4 linked regions of the Homo sapiens genome follow. The protein of the gene in region 4 interacts with the protein of the main gene of each other region in a biochemical or structural test. Each region holds a gene or a part of one and is shown on either strand. Other genes may lie near its edges.

Region 1 (4,723 bases), on a different chromosome or scaffold from region 4:
GTGGTTAGACCACACAGAGAGGGGAGGAAAGAAGAGGAATTCCTAGCACGGGTAAGCAGATGGGCAAAAGTGCAAGTGTCTGAAATAATGATATAGGATGCACTCTTTCACACAACACTTTGCCTGAACTTCAGCAATTGTGACTTGCTGGATTGAATTTCCGAGGTTCTTGGATGTACTGCTTTTAAAGATATATGTGGTACTTTTCCACAGATAAGCCAGCTAGTGGAATTTTCAGACCCCTATCCCACCGGAAATTTCAGTGGGATAGGGGTCTGGAGTAGTGTGTTCCAAGCAGAGATGACCAATACATGATACTTCAAGAGGGAAGACTTATAAATCCCTCTGGAGAAAAGCTACAACTCATATCACCTTTACTATCTATGTGCTAGCCACGTTGTAAGTGCACAGCCCCCACAATATATAGCATATGCTGCATACTATTATAATTCTTCAACAGCAGGTTCCCATAGCAGCTGCTCCCTTTTACAGTGGGGGGAACGTACACAGAGAAGGGAGTAAGTTGCCCGCACAGCTATTTAGGGGTGAAACTGGGATACAAATCCAGACAGTCTGATTTCTGAGTCAGAGCTCTTATTGTAAACGCAGACTAAGTAATAATAAAAGCTCAAACAAAAACCAAAGCGCGCACGCGCGCGCACTCAAATCGTAGGCTTGTAAAAGAATTGATGCAACCTCTCGCTATACAACGACATCCTCCTGCCTAATTTTAAATGCCGTCCATCGTAAGACCGACGTTAAAAAATTAAAACGACAACAAAACTTAAGTTTTAGAACACTGCATTGTGCTCTGTATTGCTTGCCTTTACAAAGTGGAGTTAAGGAACCAACCCCACAGTGTCTGTGAATACACTTGCAATACCTTGCTTGGGAAGTGAAAGAAACCTAACTCGGTGTGAGTGGAAATGAGGAGTGGCCGTGTGGGGAAAGGGTTAAGACTGTGCTGCAACTTGGTCGAGTTTCAGAAAGTTCTCCGGAGAGCCCAACTGCCGCGTCCCGTCGCGGCCCCTGCCTGCGCGGCCGACTGTAACAGGATGCTGGGGCTCCAGGCGCTCGCCCCGAGCTTTGGGCGACGAGAAAGAGCCAATGAGGAGCGAGGGCAAAATCGGGTGCAGTAAACCCGAAAAGGGGGCGAGGAGGCCCGCGAAGAGAGCGGGGGAGGAGGCGGGGAGGGGCGAGGAGGGGCGGGGAGGGCCGAGCGAGGAGGAGGCGGCTCTGGGGGCCGGGCGGCGCGCCTGACAGAGGAGGGGAAGCCTGGGGGCGCAAGCGTCGCAGCCGAGGGGCCGGCGCGGGGAGGCGGGCGCCAGGCGGGGGTTTGCAGGGCCGCCGCGCGTGACGTAGCGCCGGGCAGGGCGTTATCAGCTGCCGGGCCGCGGCGAGGGACGCGCGGCGACAGCGGACGGCGCTGCCCGGGCCGGGACAGCAGCAGCCGGCGGTCGCGCGCAGGACTCGAGGGCTTCTAGCCACCGTCCCCGCCAGCGCCGCGCCCCGCCACAGGGCGGCATGAGCCCACCCGCGGCCGCAGCCCTAGCGCCCTGCTCCTCCGCCTGGGCGGCCCGGCTGCGGTGACGGCTCTCGCTGCCCGACTGGGGGCCATGAAGCCGAGTCCGGCCGGGACGGCGAAGGAGCTGGAGCCTCCGGCGCCGGCCCGAGGCGAGCAGCGCACGGCGGAGCCCGAGGGGCGCTGGCGGGAGAAGGGCGAGGCAGACACCGAGCGGCAGCGCACCCGGGAGCGGCAGGAGGCCACGCTGGCCGGGCTGGCGGAGCTGGAGTACCTGCGCCAGCGCCAAGAGCTGCTGGTCAGGGGCGCCCTGCGCGGCGCCGGGGGTGCGGGAGCCGCTGCGCCCCGCGCTGGGGAGCTACTGGGGGAGGCGGCGCAGCGCAGTCGCCTGGAGGAGAAGTTCTTGGAGGAGAACATCTTGCTGCTAAGAAAGCAATTGGTAGGTCGTGCCCGAAGGTGGAGCACGGCTGTTCCTGCCCAGGGGCTGGAGGTCGGGCAGGTGGCCTGGGGCGGGCGCGAGGTTGACTCTGGCTGGGGAGATGCTCGCTGTTATGGGACGCCCCCGACCGCCCCATACCTCCCTGATCCCCTTCCTGAGTGCCCGCGGCGTGTGGGCTGCCGACGCCCACGCGTTTCTGGCGTGTGCCCGCTTTGTGTCTGGCGACCTCGCGCGGATTGCGGGAAGGGGGTGGCCGCTCTTCCCTCCTCCTCTGCCTTCGGGATTCTTGGAGTCGCCTAGTTCTAACGTTCGGTCTCCTTAGTTAGATGAGTATATGCCCTCTCCCCAGCGGTTTGCAAACTCCCACTTAAAATACCATTTTATTTGGAGGTTTTCTTGACTTTATCTCCTCCCGCCGAGAGGGGCCAAAAGCCAAGGAGGGGGTTTGTGGCGTGCTTAACTGTCCAGGGCCGAGTTTTACGATTACACTGGAGCGCCTGTAGGGAGCCGTGCCTCTCCGAGAGCTCTCCCCAGCATGCCAGCTTTCACCCAGGCTGGTGCTTAATTTCAAATAGAAGCCCTTTGTATAAGGCAGCTCAAACTAGATGGAAATGATGGAAATTTGGCTGGAGACTGTGTCCCCTCCTCTCATATTTTATACGTTCTGCCAGCTGTGATTGGTGGTGGAGGTGGGAGAAAAGAGAACCTGCTCTCGGTAAGCATTTATCTTACTGGGTTTCTGTCAGTGTCTCAGTCTTTCTATGCAGTCTTCATTAATGGGGAAGAAAAAGAACTTTGTAGCTTAATGTATTGATGAACAGCTTTTGACCCCGCCTCAGAATAATGGCGACAGCTTTGTTTTCAGTGACCTTAAAATGTAGTTTTGGAAACAGCAAACGTCCTCACCTGACCAAGTGATACTATCTAAACTAGACACATGCCAGGTAGTGGCCCTCCCACAATAAAGTGGTGATGCTGTGCAGTTGTCATGTGTTTTCTTCTATTATCTCTTTTCAGATCATTTCTTTTCTCTGTGTGTGTGTGTGTGTTTTTAAGCACCAAAGTGCTTTTACTTGATAGGTTCATTTTTCCTGAAGAAATTAATTGTAGCAAACAAACATACAATTTATGTCTCCAAGCTTTTTAAGTCAAAAGACAAGAGGCGTAGATATTCATATGCATGTGTTTTGTAAGGATGTACACTGTGGTTTGTGTAATATCTCTGTTTTGGCATTTTACTGTGCTGCTTCGGTCACAGACCAGATTCCTATGTAACATTCATTTGAGCCAGTTCTCACTGGTTATGGCTGGTGACTTTTACATTTTATTGTTTTGTGCAATTGCACCTTTTTGTCTGCATGAATCTCAAGATTGTAAGTGGCGCATTCCTATTGTCCGCTTGAGGGGAGCAAAGCAGTATGTCAAGAGAATTCCAGTCCAGTCAGTATTTATGGTACTATTTTCATTTGTAGACTTGGCATTCATGATTTGAACCAGATGCTTTTTGAGTTCTCCCGTTTTTCCAGCAATAGGAAGCACTAGGTGGCAGTGTGAGTTAGCACAATCCATCTGTCACCTTTGGAAACCCAGAGGCGTTCAAATCTCGATGGGCCTTCCCATGAGGGTTTTGGATTCTGCCAGCTCACATTATACTTGGCACTGGCTATTAGTATTAGTTTCTCACTTTCAAAGGCTCTAAGACTGATTAAACCCCACAAAGCAACTAATAGAAAACAAAACTCTGCAGGCCAAGACATTTGGCCAGAAAATCTCACCTAAGATTATAGTGTATTATAGGAAATCTCTTACTCTCATTTCAAATTAAAGAGTCTACTGTGAAGTATTGTTTTTTAAAAGACTGGTTATACACCAGATGATTTAAAGTCTCAGTCCATTTTTCTTGTCCCTATCTATGAAAAGTCAGTTTGTATATATTAGTTGAAACTAAAAACAAGTCTTGTTTTTATGAAGAAACTTTATATCACCACAAAATGTGAGAAAGTGGAATTAAACATAGGACATATTCTTGAATTCTCGAAGTTTTTCGTTACTTCAGGTCATCCAGTAAAATTTTGGTTTTCTAAGTTTAGTGAACTCTTCAGATGGGTAATTTGAATCCTTAGAGTAGACTTTCTGGTTCTTTTGTCACCCCTGTATGTTCATGTTTCCTTTGTTTCTTCCTAATCAGAACTGTTTGAGGCGAAGAGATGCTGGTTTGTTGAATCAGTTGCAAGAGCTTGACAAGCAGATAAGTGACCTGAGACTGGATGTAGAAAAGACATCTGAAGAGCACCTGGAGACAGACAGTCGGCCTAGCTCAGGTGAGTGATTGAGCACAAGGACAGAATTCTGCACTCTTGAGTTGTATCTCAGCCCCTTGTGGTTAACATTCCCAGACCTGCAAATGGCAATGGAGTTTGTTTCCAGTGCAGAGAGGATAAACAAAAAAGAAGTCTGCCATTCAGTTTTATCGGAATAAGAGGGAAATAAACTCAGACAACAAAATTTTTAGTAATGAGATCAATGTGATTGGAGTCCCCCAAGTTTAAAAATAAAAGCTATTCAAATTTCTGCAAGAGGTGCCCTCCTTTGAAACTTGAGTAAGTCAGAACTGGGCTAGAAAATTAGTCACACTTCAACTTCCTGAGACCACTTCAAAAGTTTTTTTTTTTTTTCTTTTAAACCATTTGGGCTCCTTAGATTTTTCTCTTATTATTGTTCTGAAACAATCATGATAAAGATGAGGCTTGACAGATCTAAGT
Region 2 (4,638 bases), on a different chromosome or scaffold from region 4:
CTCAGAGGATCTGCCTTGGGAAGCCACTGCTGTGGGAGGGTGGGAGGGATACAGCCCAGGTACCTCCAGAGAGGATGGAAAGGCTTATGGGGCGGATTCTGGGCAGGGGACCTGGGACCAGCCTGCAGCCTCCCCTGAGGGCCTGGCCATGGCCGCAGGCTGGGGAGGAGGGGAGGGGACCTTGGGGCCAGGTGCCATGGTCCTCTAAGCACTCTTGCTCGATGGTAAACATAACACGCGCTGCTTGCAGAACATGTGGAAACACTGAAACGCTTAAAGGAGAGAACATGGTCCCGGTACCCGGCCTTCAAGGGAGCTGCTGGCGCCTGTTCAACAGGAGCCGACCCCACCTGTGAACAGACGGCAGGCGGCTGCTCCCATGTCCCCTCAGAGAGGGGCCCTCCGAGTTCTGCTGTCACCTGGGGGCGCCTCACTTCATTCAGCCAGTGGCGGGGCTCCCTGGGTCGGCACAGAGTCAGGGGAGGGGGCTGGGGGACCTCCTGGTGGGAAAATGTCCGGTGATCCCCAGCCTCCGCGCTCAGCGGGAGGAGGCGCTCGGTCCCGCTTCTTACAACCAGCGGCGCTCACGGCGGGCCCGGGGATCAGCATCCCGGGAGCTTCTCAGGAATGCAGATTCCCAGGCCCTCACTGCCTGGGGAGTCGGGGGCCCAGCTCGAGGCCCAGGAATCTGCTTTGAGGACCCAGGTGACTCTGCTGCCTGCCTGAGAACCCCACCTTAGGTGAGGGACTAAGGTGTACCCATGGATTCATTTCAGGGGAAATAAAAAGAACAACTTAGCAGGTAGTCTATGCTTAAATATGTGTAGGATCCACAAATAAGGCATGGATAAAACCCGAGTGGAGTGTCCTGGAAATCCCACGACCACGGACCCCCCTCGCTGGGGCTGCCTGCCGCCCCCACCAGCCTCCACACACCCACTTATCTCCACAACCCCAGCCCACCCCTCAGAGACGTCTGCAGAGCCCCTGACCCTCTCCCCTTGAACAAGGACCCTCCACCCTCTTCAGACTCTCGACGAGGGACCCCCTGGACTCCTGCTGGCGGCAGGACCCCCACCCCAAGCTGGGGTCTACCACAGAGCGGACAGCAAGAAAATAGGGTGGGGGCGCAGGCGATCATGGGGTCACTGCCAGTGGGACCAGGGCTGTGGGCGAGTGCGCCAGGGTTCCCGGAGGCCAGACGTGGGACCCGGGAGTCGAGCAGGTGAAGCGGCCCTGCCCCGCCCCCACCAGGCACTGCCCCGCCCCCGCCCCGCCCCGCCCCCTCCCAGCCGGCGCCCGGGAGCCCGGAGCCAGTGCCGCGCGGACATCGGGGCTCCCCCGTTCAGAGGGCGCCGCCGCCCAGGTGAGTGCCGCCCGCCCCTGTCCCCCTCCCGCGCGGGCACCCCCTGCCCTCGGCTGTTATCCCCACTGGGGGTTTCACCCTGTGTGCGCAGCCCCGGCCCGGGGTCCCGCCGTGCGCCCCCAGCCCGCTGCACGCACTGTCCCCCACGCGCCCTCCGCACACCCGCGGGGCTCTCCTGCCGCCGCCGGGGGTCCCTCCCCTCCCGTTCCATCCACTCCCAGCAGCTCCATCCCTCCCATCTCCTGCCCCCACCCCACAACTCACCATCTGCAGGCACCCCGTGTGCCAGGGTCAGCCCAGAAGCCACAGGGGACCCAGATGGCCCCACTCTGCCCACCGCGCCGCTCCCGGCCTCTCCTCCCCACGACGGGGGCCACAGCGGGGCTGGCTCCTGGAGCTGGAGGAGGGTGGGTAAGGCTGGGGAGGGCTCGGAGCCTGGGGCTGGGGGCCGGAAGTGGCACTCAGGCCACAGGGAACCACTGGGCCACGGAAGGAGGGTCCCAGGGTGCCCGTGGCACCCAGCGAGGGGAGGATCCGCAATTTGGGTGCCGGGGGAGGCAACTGGTGCCTGCGCGCAGCTGGGTCGGTGAGCTCCTGGAAGGCAGCAGGCAGAGGCCAGCACCCAGGGGCCCTGTGACCTGGCACTCACAGATGGGTTCCCTGAAACCCAAGACTGGGGAGGCTGGGGTGCCACCCCGCCCGCTGCGAACAGAGCCCCCTCCTGTCCAAGGCACCGCGTGTACCTGGAATCCTCCTGGCGTCTTCACCCTCTCCAGAATAGAGAACACGCCACTGGGGTGTGTGCCCTTGGCCCTCCTCCCCCACCCCAGACCCACCCACGTGCCCGACCCGCTGTCCCCAGCCTGCCAGCCTGCCTGGGGCCCCCTCAAGGGCAAGAGAGCGGAGTGCATGGTGACAGAAGTTGGGGATGGTTCCAGTGAGGCTGAGCCCTTTCTGAAGGCAGTGATTCTGGACTATGTAGGTGGGGACTGCCAGAGCCTCCTGGGCAGAAACTGGTCAACAGCACCAAGGACAGGCGCCTGGCGTTGATTTCCAGAGCAAGACCCAGCGAGGCTGTCAGGAGGTGCCTGGTGTGGAGGGTGCCCCGAGAAGCGTTCGCGGAGCACGCGGGACCCCTGCTGCTGCTGCTCCAGGCTGGCCCACACCTGCCTCAGTTTCCCTCTCCTGGGGAGGGTATGTGCCCCTGGCCACAGGCTGCCGCAGGGACAGGTGGCGTGTATGTGGGGGACAGGCAGGGGTGCCATTGGCTGCACTCACAGAGCTGGACCCCAAGGGGGCAGTGGCCTGCCACCAGGCCACCCTTACGACAGAGGAAACAGGTCAGAACGCTTGTCCTGGGAGCACAGGCCTGGCTCCGGGGCCTTTGGAGGGGCTGGGGCCTGTAGTCTTAGCTAGGGTGTCCCCCGACGTTTGCCCCTGCCCAGCACACAATGGAGGAGCCCGGGTGGGTCTGCAGCCTCTCCAGGGTGCGGCGTGGGCCCCGGCCGTGTGAGCCGCTGCCTCCCCGAGCAGCAGGTTCCGCAGCCCCTCCAAGCTGCAGCCGCATCGCTGCCCCCCATGAAGGAGCCGACTCCCCGACCTCGTGCTGGGTTAGCCTGGAAGGAGTTGGCAGGGTGCAGGCTAGACCTCCACCCAGTCATGGAGGACTTGGTGCTGAGGCCCCGCCTCTGGTCCCAGGCCCCTGTGAAGACTGCCCCCTTCTCCGAGGAGCCCAGCGGCCTCCTGGATGCTGGGGAAATGCTGGGCTGCTTAGGGCAGCTTGTGGGAGCAATCGTTGAGCGCCCAGTGTATGCCAGCCCCGCTGTGGTCCCCGTCGTGGGGAGGTGAGGCCGGGAGCGGTGCTGTGGGCAGACTGGGGCCATCTGGGTCCCCTGTGGCTTCTGGGCTGACCCTGGCACACCGGGCACCTGCAGATGGTGAGTTGTGGGGTGGGGGCAGGAGATGGGAGGGATGGATGCTGCTGGGAGTGGATGCACGCAGCACCCTGCACACAGAAGCTCACTCAGTTTCATCAGCTCAGCAACCCTACAGTTTGCAGGAGTTGCCTATCCCAGAAGCTGGGCTCAGAGAAGCCCGTGACTTACCCCAGACCACGCAGCCCGTGTGGGGAGTGGTCAGGGGCCGGGGTCTCTCCCAGTGCCATGTCAGGCTGAGCAGATCCCTTCGTGGCCGAGGGCTCGGGATCAGAAAGCTCCTACTGCTGGCTCCCCCTCCAGTGAATCCCCCACCCACAAGGGACAGGGCCACCGGGACAATTCCCCGTGAGTGCGTAATTTTATGATTCAGAGGATACTGCTTCCAAATAACGGCTCTTGCAGAATTATGTTCCAAGAGTCAGGTACAGCAATAATGGTCTATTTGTGTCCTTTGCTGCTCTGAAGTCTAACTCCGGAGGTGGAGCACTGGGGGCCGCAGAGCCGGGGACCTGGCAGCCTGTGGAGCCCCTCGCTGGGCTCTGGGCATGGGAGTGGCCTTGGAGGAACCCTGAGGCTCCTCTGAAGCTAAGAAGCTACAAAGACAGGGAGGCTGAGGCAGGAGGATCACTTGAGCACAGGTCGAGGCTGCAGTGAGCTGTGATCACAGCACCACTTCGATCCAGCTCGGGCAACAGAGCAAGACCCCATCTCGAAAACAAAAAATCAAACAGGCATTTGGGAACCACACGTGCTGGGGACCCAGGGCCTGTGTTGGAGATGGACCGGAGCCCGACAGCCGCCCTCTCCCTGTCCCACCATCGGTGGCTCCTCTGTCCCCTCCACCTGGCCTCCTTGCTACGGAGGAATGGGCCGAAAGTGCCTCCCCAGGGAGGGTGCAGCTCAGAGGCCTCTGCACCTGGGCCGCCATCCCACCCACCTGGACTCCCACGCAGCCCGCGGGCTGTCTCCAGACCACTGTCCTTCCGGAATGCATGCTCCACAGGCAGCCAGAGGGAGCCGCAAACATGGCGTGTTGGATTTCCATGCTGGTCCCTGGGGAGCGGAGAGCCACAGGCCTCTTCCCCTCCCTCTCCCTCTCCCTCCCTCCCTCTCTCCCCCTACCCTGTCTCTCTCTCTCCCCCCCCACTCTCTCTCCCTCCCTCTCTCCCCCCACCCTGTCTTTCTCTCTCCCTCCCCACCTCCCCCTCTCTCTCCCTCCCCCTCCTCCCCCTCCCTCTCCCCCCACCTTTTCTCTCTCCCTCCCCACCTCCCCCTCCCTCTCCCTCCCCCCTCACCTCCCCTCCCTTTCCCTCCCTCTCTCCCTCTCTCCTCCCC
Region 3 (4,096 bases), on a different chromosome or scaffold from region 4:
ACGCTGGGACTGGGAGCCACCACCTCCCAGCCCCAGCCCTCCCGGCTCGGGAACCTCCCCTCTCAGGACCTTCCCCTCTGGGGACCCTCCAGCCACCCAGGCAGGGGAGGCATGGTCAGGGCCCCAGCTGCAGACCCACCCAGGATGGGGTTCCAGGGACACTGCCCTCTAAGTGGGGTCCCTCCTCCAGCCCTGCGGTTTAGCCCTCCTCTCTGTGGGTCCCGACTGCCTGCACCTCTGTGCACAGAGCTGATGGACACTGCTGACTGGGCTGTGAGGACAGCCCCCCAGTGACCCCAGTCCTCACCCCAACCTGTCTTCCCCAGACTTGGAACTTTCAGACACCGAGGAGCCCCCCAACTATGATGAGGAGATGAGTGGGGGGATCGAGTTCCTGGCTAGTGTCACCAAGGACACAGCGTCCGACTCCCCTGCAGGTGGGGACGGGGCACAGGCGTCGTGGCTAAGGGAGGGGTGGCTCCTGCCGCCCCAGGAGGGAGCTCGGTCATTGGACCAGGGGCACTGGGACCTGGGGGGGTGGGGTCTCCTGTGGGTTCTCAAGGGCCCTGCTTGGCACCCACTGAGTGCCCCCTCAACCAACTCGGAGGCTGCTGTCCGGGGAGACGTGGGCCGGGCAGGGAGCAGGTGGGGTATGTCTTGAGGGAAGCGAGACGTTACCTGTGCTGCCTGTGGCGTGTGGGGTCATGGATGTGGGGGAAGGGCCCGCAACCTGAAAGGCACGTGACCCTAACCTTCCCGGTGACCCTAACTTTCCAAGGCACCCAGCAGGTGACGGCCCCGGCGAGGTCTCCCCTGCCGCCGTGGGGCTCTCCGAAGGCTGACTAGCCGCTGCCCTCTCTCCTAGGAATTGACAACCCTGTGTTTTCTCCGGACGAGGCCCTGGACCGCAGCCTCCTGGCCAGGCTGCCGCCCTGGCTGTCTCCCGGGGAGACGGTGGTCCCCTCGCAGAGGGCCCGCACGCAGATTCCCTACTCTCCCGGCACCTTCTGCCGCCTGATGCCCTTCCGCCTCAGCAGCAAGTCCGTGGACTCCTTCCTGCAGGCAGACGGCCCCGAGGAGCGGCCCCCCGCCGCCCTCCCCGAGTCCACACACATGTAACGCTCCCGGGCCTCCCGCCGCCTAACCCCTCTCCGCAGCTCCTCTCCCTCCAGGTCTCCGCCTCGCGCGCGCTGTCTCTCTCCCTCCCCGCCTAACCCCTCTCCGCAGCTCCTCTCCCTCCAGGTCTCCGCCTCGCGCGCGCTGTCTCTCTCCTCCCTGGACCTGAACCTGGCTCGCTCTCTCTCTCCCCGCCTAACCCCTCTCCGCAGCTCCTCTCCCTCCAGGTCTCCGCCTCGCGCGCGCTGTCTCTCTCCTCCCTGGACCTGAACCTGGCTCTCTCCCTCCCCGCCTAACCCCTCTCCGCAGCTCCTCTCCCTCCAGGTCTCCGCCTCGCGCGCGCTGTCTCTCTCCTCCCTGGACCTGAACCTGGCTCGCTCTCTCTCTCTCCCCGCCTAACCCCTCTCCGCAGCTCCTCTCCTCCAGGTCTCCGCCTCGCGCGCGCTGTCTCTCTCCTCCCTGGACCTGAACCTGGTTCTCTCTCTCCCTCCCCGCCTAACCCCTCTCCGCAGCTCCTCTCCCTCCAGGTCTCCGCCTCGCGCGCGCTGTCTCTCTCCTCCCTGGACCTGAACCTGGCTCGCTCTCTCTCTCTCCCCGCCTAACCCCTCTCCGCAGCTCCTCTCCTCCAGGTCTCCGCCTCGCGCGCGCTGTCTCTCTCCTCCCTGGACCGGAACCTGGTTCTCTCTCTCCCTCCCCGCCTAACCCCTCTCCGCAGCTCCTCTCCCTCCAGGTCTCCGCCTCGCGCGCTCGCTCTCTCTCCTCCCTGGACCTGAACCTGGCGCGCTCTCTCTCTCCAGCAGCCCCTCTTCCTCCTCTAGCGCCCTGCTGGCCGCACCTCCCTCAGGAGCCCGGACAGAGATACTCTGGCGTCTCTGCTGCTCCCACGGAGCTGAGGGCACTAGGGCCGCCTGAGATTTCCTTTAGGTGGCTCCGAAAGCTAGTCCGCGAGTCCAAATCCTGCGCTCCCAGGGAGCTGAGAGCAGGGCTGGGGGAAGCCAGACAGACGCCCCGGGTCCCCGACCCTCTCACAGGGATACAGGGAGGGCCGGCCCCGCAGACCCGGACTCTGCCTCCAGCTCAGAGCAGGGAGAGGGGCGGGCCGTGGGGTCTGGGCTTTCTGAGCTCCCTCTGGGGGCCTGGGAGGCACCCGGGGGACGCCAGGGCGGTTTGAGATGGAGGAAGCAGGTCCCCTTGGGGACCTTGACCTCCCGCGCTGCAGGGCCTGGGGCGGGACCTTCCTGCGCCGAGGAGGCCGCTGTCCCGGGACCCCCGGCGGGGGGACGTGGCGGGGCCGGGCTGGGGCTTCGCTGTTGCTGCTTCCGCCTCTGCCCCGCGAACCCGGGTCCTGGGAGGAGGCCCCAGCGGACGCCGAGCCTGGGGTGCGCCGCGGGAGGGGAGGCGAGAGCCGCCGGGCTCGGGGACAGCTGAGGCCCCCGGGGACGCCCCTCCCGCCCCAGCGCCCGGGCTCCGCGCGCCGCTCACGCCTTCCTCTCCCGCAGGTGACACCGGCTCCGACACGCCGCTAACCGGCCGCTCGTCCCCGCGCCACGGTCCGCCCACCGCCGCCGCCGCTGTCCCAGAGAAACCCCAGATCCCCGCGCGGCTACAGCGACCGCGAGCCCCGAGCCCCGCCTCGCCCACGCCAGCGCCTGCGCAGAACTCCGAGAGTGCCGCGCCTGCGCCCGCAGAGCCGCCCGAGGGCGAGCCGGGGGCGGGGCCTGCGCCGGGGGCGGGGCCGGAGCGCCGAGGGCTGCCGAGTGCGCACGCGCGTTCGGCGGCGGCGCGCCGCGTGCACAGCCGGCGCTCGTTCCAGCGGCCTCGCGCGCGCCGCCGCCCCGCGCTGCTGAAGCTGGCGTCGCTGCCGCCCTCGTGCCACGCACCGCCGCACGCGCTGGAGCAGGAGGAGACGCCGCTGTGACGCCGCCGGCGGGAAGGGTCCGCGCGCCATGGCTGGCCGCTCGCGCCCTTTCCCACCGCTGCCGGGAAACCGAGGCTCGCCCCAAACGGATTTGCGTGAAACCAGCCCAAGGTTCCGGGCCCCCCCAACCGAGCCCCGCGCCCGGGGACTGACTCGGGGACCGACTCAGGGACCTCCCGAGCGCCAGGACTCAGGGCCCGACCTGCAGCGGCTGCAGGCCCAGCGCCCGCAAGCGGCCTGGGCCGAGCGCCGTTTCCAGGCCCTCGCCAGGTCTTTGAACTGCAGGTAAAGTGGCAGGAACGTCTTCCGTCTGCTCAGCGTTTGGGGATTTAGACTCCTAAAGCCAGTACCTGCCCCGTTTCCCCCCCAGGTTCCGTCCTGCCCGCGCCCGGTCTCAGGGTGGCGGCCCCGGACACGGCCCGTCCCCACAGACGAGGTCTCCGGCCTGAGCTGTCGCACCTGGCGCGGAGGTCGCCCGGGGTGCCCTGGCTGGGTGAGAGGTGGCCTGGCGGGCGGAGCTTGCCAAGAATCACGGCCAGTCCTTAAGTGGATGGTGGGGCCCAGCAGCTGCTCTGTCCCCCTTAACAAACCAGGGGGCATGGAGGGGCCCAGGGCACCGCCCCCCTACCAGGCTCAGGCCCTCCAAGGAGAACCTGCTGAGACCCCTGAGCCTGTCCTAGACCCCGGACCCCTGACCCTTCCCACCCCTTCCAGCGTCCCAGGGCGAGGCCTTGGACAGAGCTCCTGGTCCTCTGCAGGGAGACCATCCAGCCCAAGCTCTGGGAGGCACAGTCCATTGAGTGGGCGGAGGCCGCGGGTGCTGAGCCGGGGAGGGTGCTCGGAGTCCATCCATCCCTCAGACGGCAAGTCCCACAGGGTCCAACCCACCTGAAACCTGCCTGCACGGTGGAAGTGGTGGAGGTGGACACTCCTAGGGGCTTTTCTAAAGCTAGACTCGCAGCTCCTTGCTCAGGAAAATTAAACTATTCACGTTTCAGATCAAGTGTTGACAGTCACCAGTCAGGAGGAGTTCTTAAAGAGTTTTATGTTGACTGAATATTG
Region 4 (4,568 bases):
TGAGCCATATCACCTGTCAGCCACTTGGGGCCCAGAACCATTTTAACAACATAATTCCAAGAAGCATCAAACCCTCAAACACTCGATGGTTTCCAGGACTTTATGTTCCAAAAGGGCTCTGGGGCCACTATGACCCCAAGAATTCCTGTGAAGGACCAGGAAGTACCTTAGGGAAGTGAGGCCCAAGTCTCTGACACTGTCCTACTGCCAAGTCCGAGCCCTGTGTTGACAGAGCTGGAAAGTGCCAGGCTCACAAAGGTTTCTCCTCACCTCACTTACTTTCTTTTTGAGACAGAGTCTCACTCTGTCACCCAGGCTGGAGTGCAGTGGCGCAATCTTGGCTCACCGCAACCTCTGCCTCCCGGGTTCAAGCAAGTCTCCTGCCTCAGCCTCCCGAGTAGCTGGGATTACAGGAACACGCTACCACATCCCGCTAATTTTTGTAATTTTAGTAGAGACGGGGTTTCACCATGTTGGCCAGGCTGGTCTCAAACTCCTGAACTCAGGTGATCCGCCCACTTCAGCCTCGCAAAGTGCTGGGATGACGGGTGTGAGTCACTGTGCCTGGCCTGGTTTCTCCTCTCCACGTGCCCTCCCCCGCCAGAACCCAGCTGCCTGGATACTCACTGTAGCCTGCCCTCCGCCGGCCCTCCAGGTACCACGTCAGATACAACCATGGATCCACCGGGCCGGTCTCGGCCTCCAGAGATCGCAATGCCAAAGCCCCGGCGGGGGTCCTGAGAGAGGATGAGGGGAAGGAAGAGCTGCTGTTTCCCCCAGGGTAAAGGGTCTCCCCTCTATTGAGCTGGGCCTAAGCCGCCATACTCTCTGGCACCCAGACAGGGAGAGGGAGGCCTCACCTTGGACAGTGTGGCCGTGTGCTGTTCCCAGATGGTCAGCTCCTCCATGTCAGCCACCTGGTCGAGGGGAGCGGGGAAGATGGGCATGAGGCCACACAGGTTCATCTGAGCACTTGGGGGTCCCCAGCTCAGGGTGGGGAGTCCAGCTCTGACAGGCCTGTGTTTGGAGCCTGTGACAAGTTACTACCTCTCTCAGGGCCTCAGGTTTTTTTGTTTGTTTTTTTGTTTTGTTTCATTTTTTGAGACAGAGTCTGGCTCTGTCGCCCAGGCTGGAGTGCAGTGGCACGATCTCAGCTCACTGCAACCTCCACCTCCCGGGTTCAAGCGATTCTCCTGCCTCAGCCTCCCAGGTAGCTGGGATTACAGGGGTGCACCACCACACCTGGCTAATCTTTATATTTTTAATAGAGATAGGGTTTCACCACATTGGCCAGACTGGCCTTTAACTTCTGGCCTCAAGTGATCCACCCACCTCGGCCTCCCAAAGTGCTGGGATTACAGGGGTGAGTCACTGTGCCCAGCCTTGTTTTGTTTTTTTTGAGGCGGAGTCTCATTCTGTTGCCCAGGCTGGAGTGCAGTGGCACAATCTCTGCTCACTGCAGTCTCTGCCTCCCAAGTTCAAGTGATTCTCCTGCCTCAGCCTCCTGAGTAGCTGGCTGCCTACTGGCCTCCTGAGTAGCTGGGCTCCTGAGTAGCTGGGCACCTACAGGTGCCCACCACCACGCCAGGCTAATTTTTCTATTTTTAGTAGAGACGGGATTTCACCATGTTGGCCAGGCTGGTCTCAAACTCCTGACCTCAACTGATCCACCCACAGAGGGCAGAGATTTTTGTCTTTGTCCAAAACTGAGCCCTCAGTTCCCTGCCTAGAACAGCGCCTGAGTTGCAGCAGGGATTCAAGAAGGATTTGCTGAATGAATTAATGAGTGAATGAATGAAACACTTCCTTTGTGCCAGGTGCTTTACATGTACTATCTCTTTTTTTTTTTTTTTTTTTGAGACAGAGTTTCGCTCTTGTTGCCCAGGCTGGAGTGCAATGGCGTGATCTTGGCTCACTGCAACCTCCGCCTTCCAGGTTCAAGTGATTCTCCTGCCTCAGCATCCCAAGTATCTGGGACTACAGGCATGTGCCACCATGCCCAGCTAATTTTTTTGAATTTTTAGTAGAGACGGGGTTTCACTATGTTGGCCAGGCTGGTCTCGAACTCCTGATCTTGTGATCCACCCCCTTGGCCTTCCAAAGTGCTGGGATTACAGGCATGAGCCACCGCGCCCAGCCTTACATGTACTATCTCATTTAATACATTCATCAAAGGTGCATTCAATTATCCCCATGTTACAGATGAGGAAACTGAGGCACAGAGCCATGAAGTCCCCCCTCCCACACTTTTTTTTTTTTAGACAGGGTCTCTGTCACTCAGGCTGGAGTGCAGTGGTGTGATCACGGTTCAATGCAGCCTCGAACTCCCAGGCTCAAGTGATCCTCCCACCTCTGCCTCCCAAGTAACTGGGACCACAGGCACACATCACGATGCCCGGCTAATTTTTTTTATTGTTTGTAGAGATGGAGTCTCTCTGTGTTGCCAAGGCTGGTCTCAAACTCCTAGGCTCAAGTGATTCTCCAGCCTTGGCCTCCCAAAGTGCTGGGATTACAAGTGTGAGCCATTATGGCTCACTGCAGCCTCGAACTCCTGGCTTCAAGCAATCCTCCTGCCCCAGCCTCCTGAGTAACTGGGACTATAGGTGCATACCATCATGCCCAGCTAATTTTTTAACTTCTATTTTTATAGAGACAGGAGGGTCTTGCTGTGTTGCCCAGACTCTTCTTGAACTCCTGGGCTCAAATGATCCTCCCACCTGGGCTTTCCCACTTAGAAAAAAAAAAAACAAAAAAAACTCTGTTGCTGAGGCTGGAGTGCAATGGTGCCAACTTGGCTCACTGCAACCTCTGCCTCCTAGTTTCAAGCGATTCTCCTGCCTCAGCCTCCCAAGTAGCTGGGATCACAGGTGTCTACCACCATGCCCAGCTAATTTTTGTATTTTTAATAGAGACGGGGGTCTCACCATGTTGGCCAGGCTGATCTTGAACTCCTGACTTCAAGTGATCCGCCCGCCTTGGCCTCCCAAAGTGCTGGGATTACAGGCGTGAGCCTCCACACCAGGCAGATTCTGTTATTTTCATGTCCATGGCATGAATGAGAACACCAGACTCAGGTGCAAGGTCACCTGGCCACGCCTCCACCCTCCCTTCCCTCCTGCCAGCACGCACCATGCCCTGCTCCCCAGGCAGGGGACAGGTGGAGGGAGTGGGGAGGGAGTTTGTAGAAGTGACTCCTCCTCCTCCCCGGGGCGGGTTTTCTAGGCTTGGCACAGCGGGTGTGTGATTCCCTCTGCCCAGGCACCCCCCATTGGTGCGCTCCAGTGCCTTTTCTTATAAGCTCCAGCGTCTCTAGCGAGGCCAGCATTCCTGATCTCCAGGAGTGGGAAGGCGGGTGGAGGGGAGAGAAACAGAGCAGAGGGCAGGGCTCTGCAGTTCTGAAGGAGCCAGGGCAGCGCTCAGGACTGGACTCAAATCCCAAGTCTGCCCACCCGTGCTAGCTATGGCGGGGCCTCTCCCAGCCTCAGTCTCCCCATCTGTGAAATGGCACTGCTGCCCTGTCTTGCAGGGATGTGGTTTGGGAAAAGGGTACAGATTCAATGCCTGAAAAGCAAAAAGCAGAAGGAGCCTTGGGGAGGTGGTGGCCAAATAATGACTTTCTCCTTGTGTAGTTTTTTTTTTTTTTTTTGAGATGGGGTTTTTTGCTCTTGTTGCCCAGGCTGGAGTGCAATGGCGTAGTCTCGGCTCACTGCAACCTCCACCTCCTGGGTTCAAGTTATTCTCCTGACTCAGCCTCCCGAGTAGCTGGGATTATAGGCACCCACAACCACAGCCAGCTACTTTTTGTATTTTTAGTAGAGACGGGGTTTCACCATGTTGGTCAGGCTGTCTTGAACCTGGCTGCAAGCAGGCGCTTGATGTGGACCCATTCATTTCATCCTCAGAGTGACCTTAGGAAGTGGCACAGTTATTATTCCTACTTTAGAGGTGAGATTAAAAGGGGCCTAGAGAGGTTCAGTAACTTGCCTGAGGTCACGCAGCACAGTGGTGAACTTGGCAGCCTGCCCTGTTCTCTGGCTCTTTTTTGGTTGGTTGGTTGGTTGATTGGTTGTTTGGTTTTTGAGACGGGGTTTCACTCTGTTGCCCAGGCTGGAGTGCAGTGGCTCAATCACAGCTCACTGCAGCCTTGAACTCCCAGGCCCAAGGGATCCTCCTGCTTCAGCCTCCCAGGTAGCTGGGACCACAGGCATGCACCACCACACACAGCATATTTTTTTGTTTTTTTGTAGAGATGGGGTTTTGCTATGTTGACCAAGCTGGTCTCAAATTCCTGGGCCCAAGCGATCCTCCCACCTCAGCCTCCTAAAGTGTTGGAATTACAGGCGTGAGCCACCGCACCCAGCCTCACTCTTGCTCTTAACCACCAGGCTACAGTGGCTTTCTGATTATTTACTCTTTTTCTTCTGAGCTTATTTTTCAAAACTGCATCTTTTTTTTTTTTAACCTGCTTTGATGTTATACTTTGTGTCATTAAATGGCCCCAGGGCCGGGCACGGTGGATTCTGCCTATAATCTCAGCACTTTGGGAGACCGAGGCAAGAGGATTGCTT

The links. Proteins that work in one complex are often made in the same cells at the same time.
Region 1: the proteins of TJP3 (region 4) and DACT1 interact in a test that uses a peptide from one of them, tested with the Homo sapiens proteins (one large-scale study listed by IntAct).
Region 2: the proteins of TJP3 (region 4) and SSTR5 interact in a test that uses a peptide from one of them, tested with the Homo sapiens proteins (one large-scale study listed by IntAct).
Region 3: the proteins of TJP3 (region 4) and SLC9A3 interact in a test that uses a peptide from one of them, tested with the Homo sapiens proteins (one large-scale study listed by IntAct).

What each region holds. Positions count from the first base shown.
Region 1 is NC_000014.9:58,636,587-58,641,309, forward strand, and holds the start of DACT1 (dapper homolog 1), read left to right. Parts: upstream 1-1,375; 5' UTR 1,376-1,616; coding exon 1,617-1,961; intron 1,962-2,250; exon of another isoform or gene 2,251-2,676; intron 2,677-2,826; exon of another isoform or gene 2,827-2,905; intron 2,906-4,149; coding exon 4,150-4,282; intron 4,283-4,723.
Region 2 is NC_000016.10:1,071,457-1,076,094, forward strand, and holds the start of SSTR5 (somatostatin receptor type 5), read left to right. Parts: upstream 1-1,290; 5' UTR 1,291-1,366; intron 1,367-4,638.
Region 3 is NC_000005.10:471,902-475,997, reverse strand, and holds part of SLC9A3 (sodium/hydrogen exchanger 3 isoform 1 precursor), read left to right. Parts: intron 1-326; coding exon 327-437; intron 438-678; exon of another isoform or gene 679-861; intron 862-865; coding exon 866-1,115; intron 1,116-2,598; exon of another isoform or gene 2,599-2,615; coding exon 2,616-2,619; 3' UTR 2,620-4,096. UniProt on the Homo sapiens protein: Plasma membrane Na(+)/H(+) antiporter. Exchanges intracellular H(+) ions for extracellular Na(+) in 1:1 stoichiometry, playing a key role in salt and fluid absorption and pH homeostasis.
Region 4 is NC_000019.10:3,724,773-3,729,340, reverse strand, and holds part of TJP3 (tight junction protein ZO-3), read right to left. Parts: intron 918-4,568; coding exon of another isoform or gene 909-917; coding exon 861-908; intron 738-860; coding exon 628-737; intron 1-627. UniProt on the Homo sapiens protein: TJP1, TJP2, and TJP3 are closely related scaffolding proteins that link tight junction (TJ) transmembrane proteins such as claudins, junctional adhesion molecules, and occludin to the actin cytoskeleton.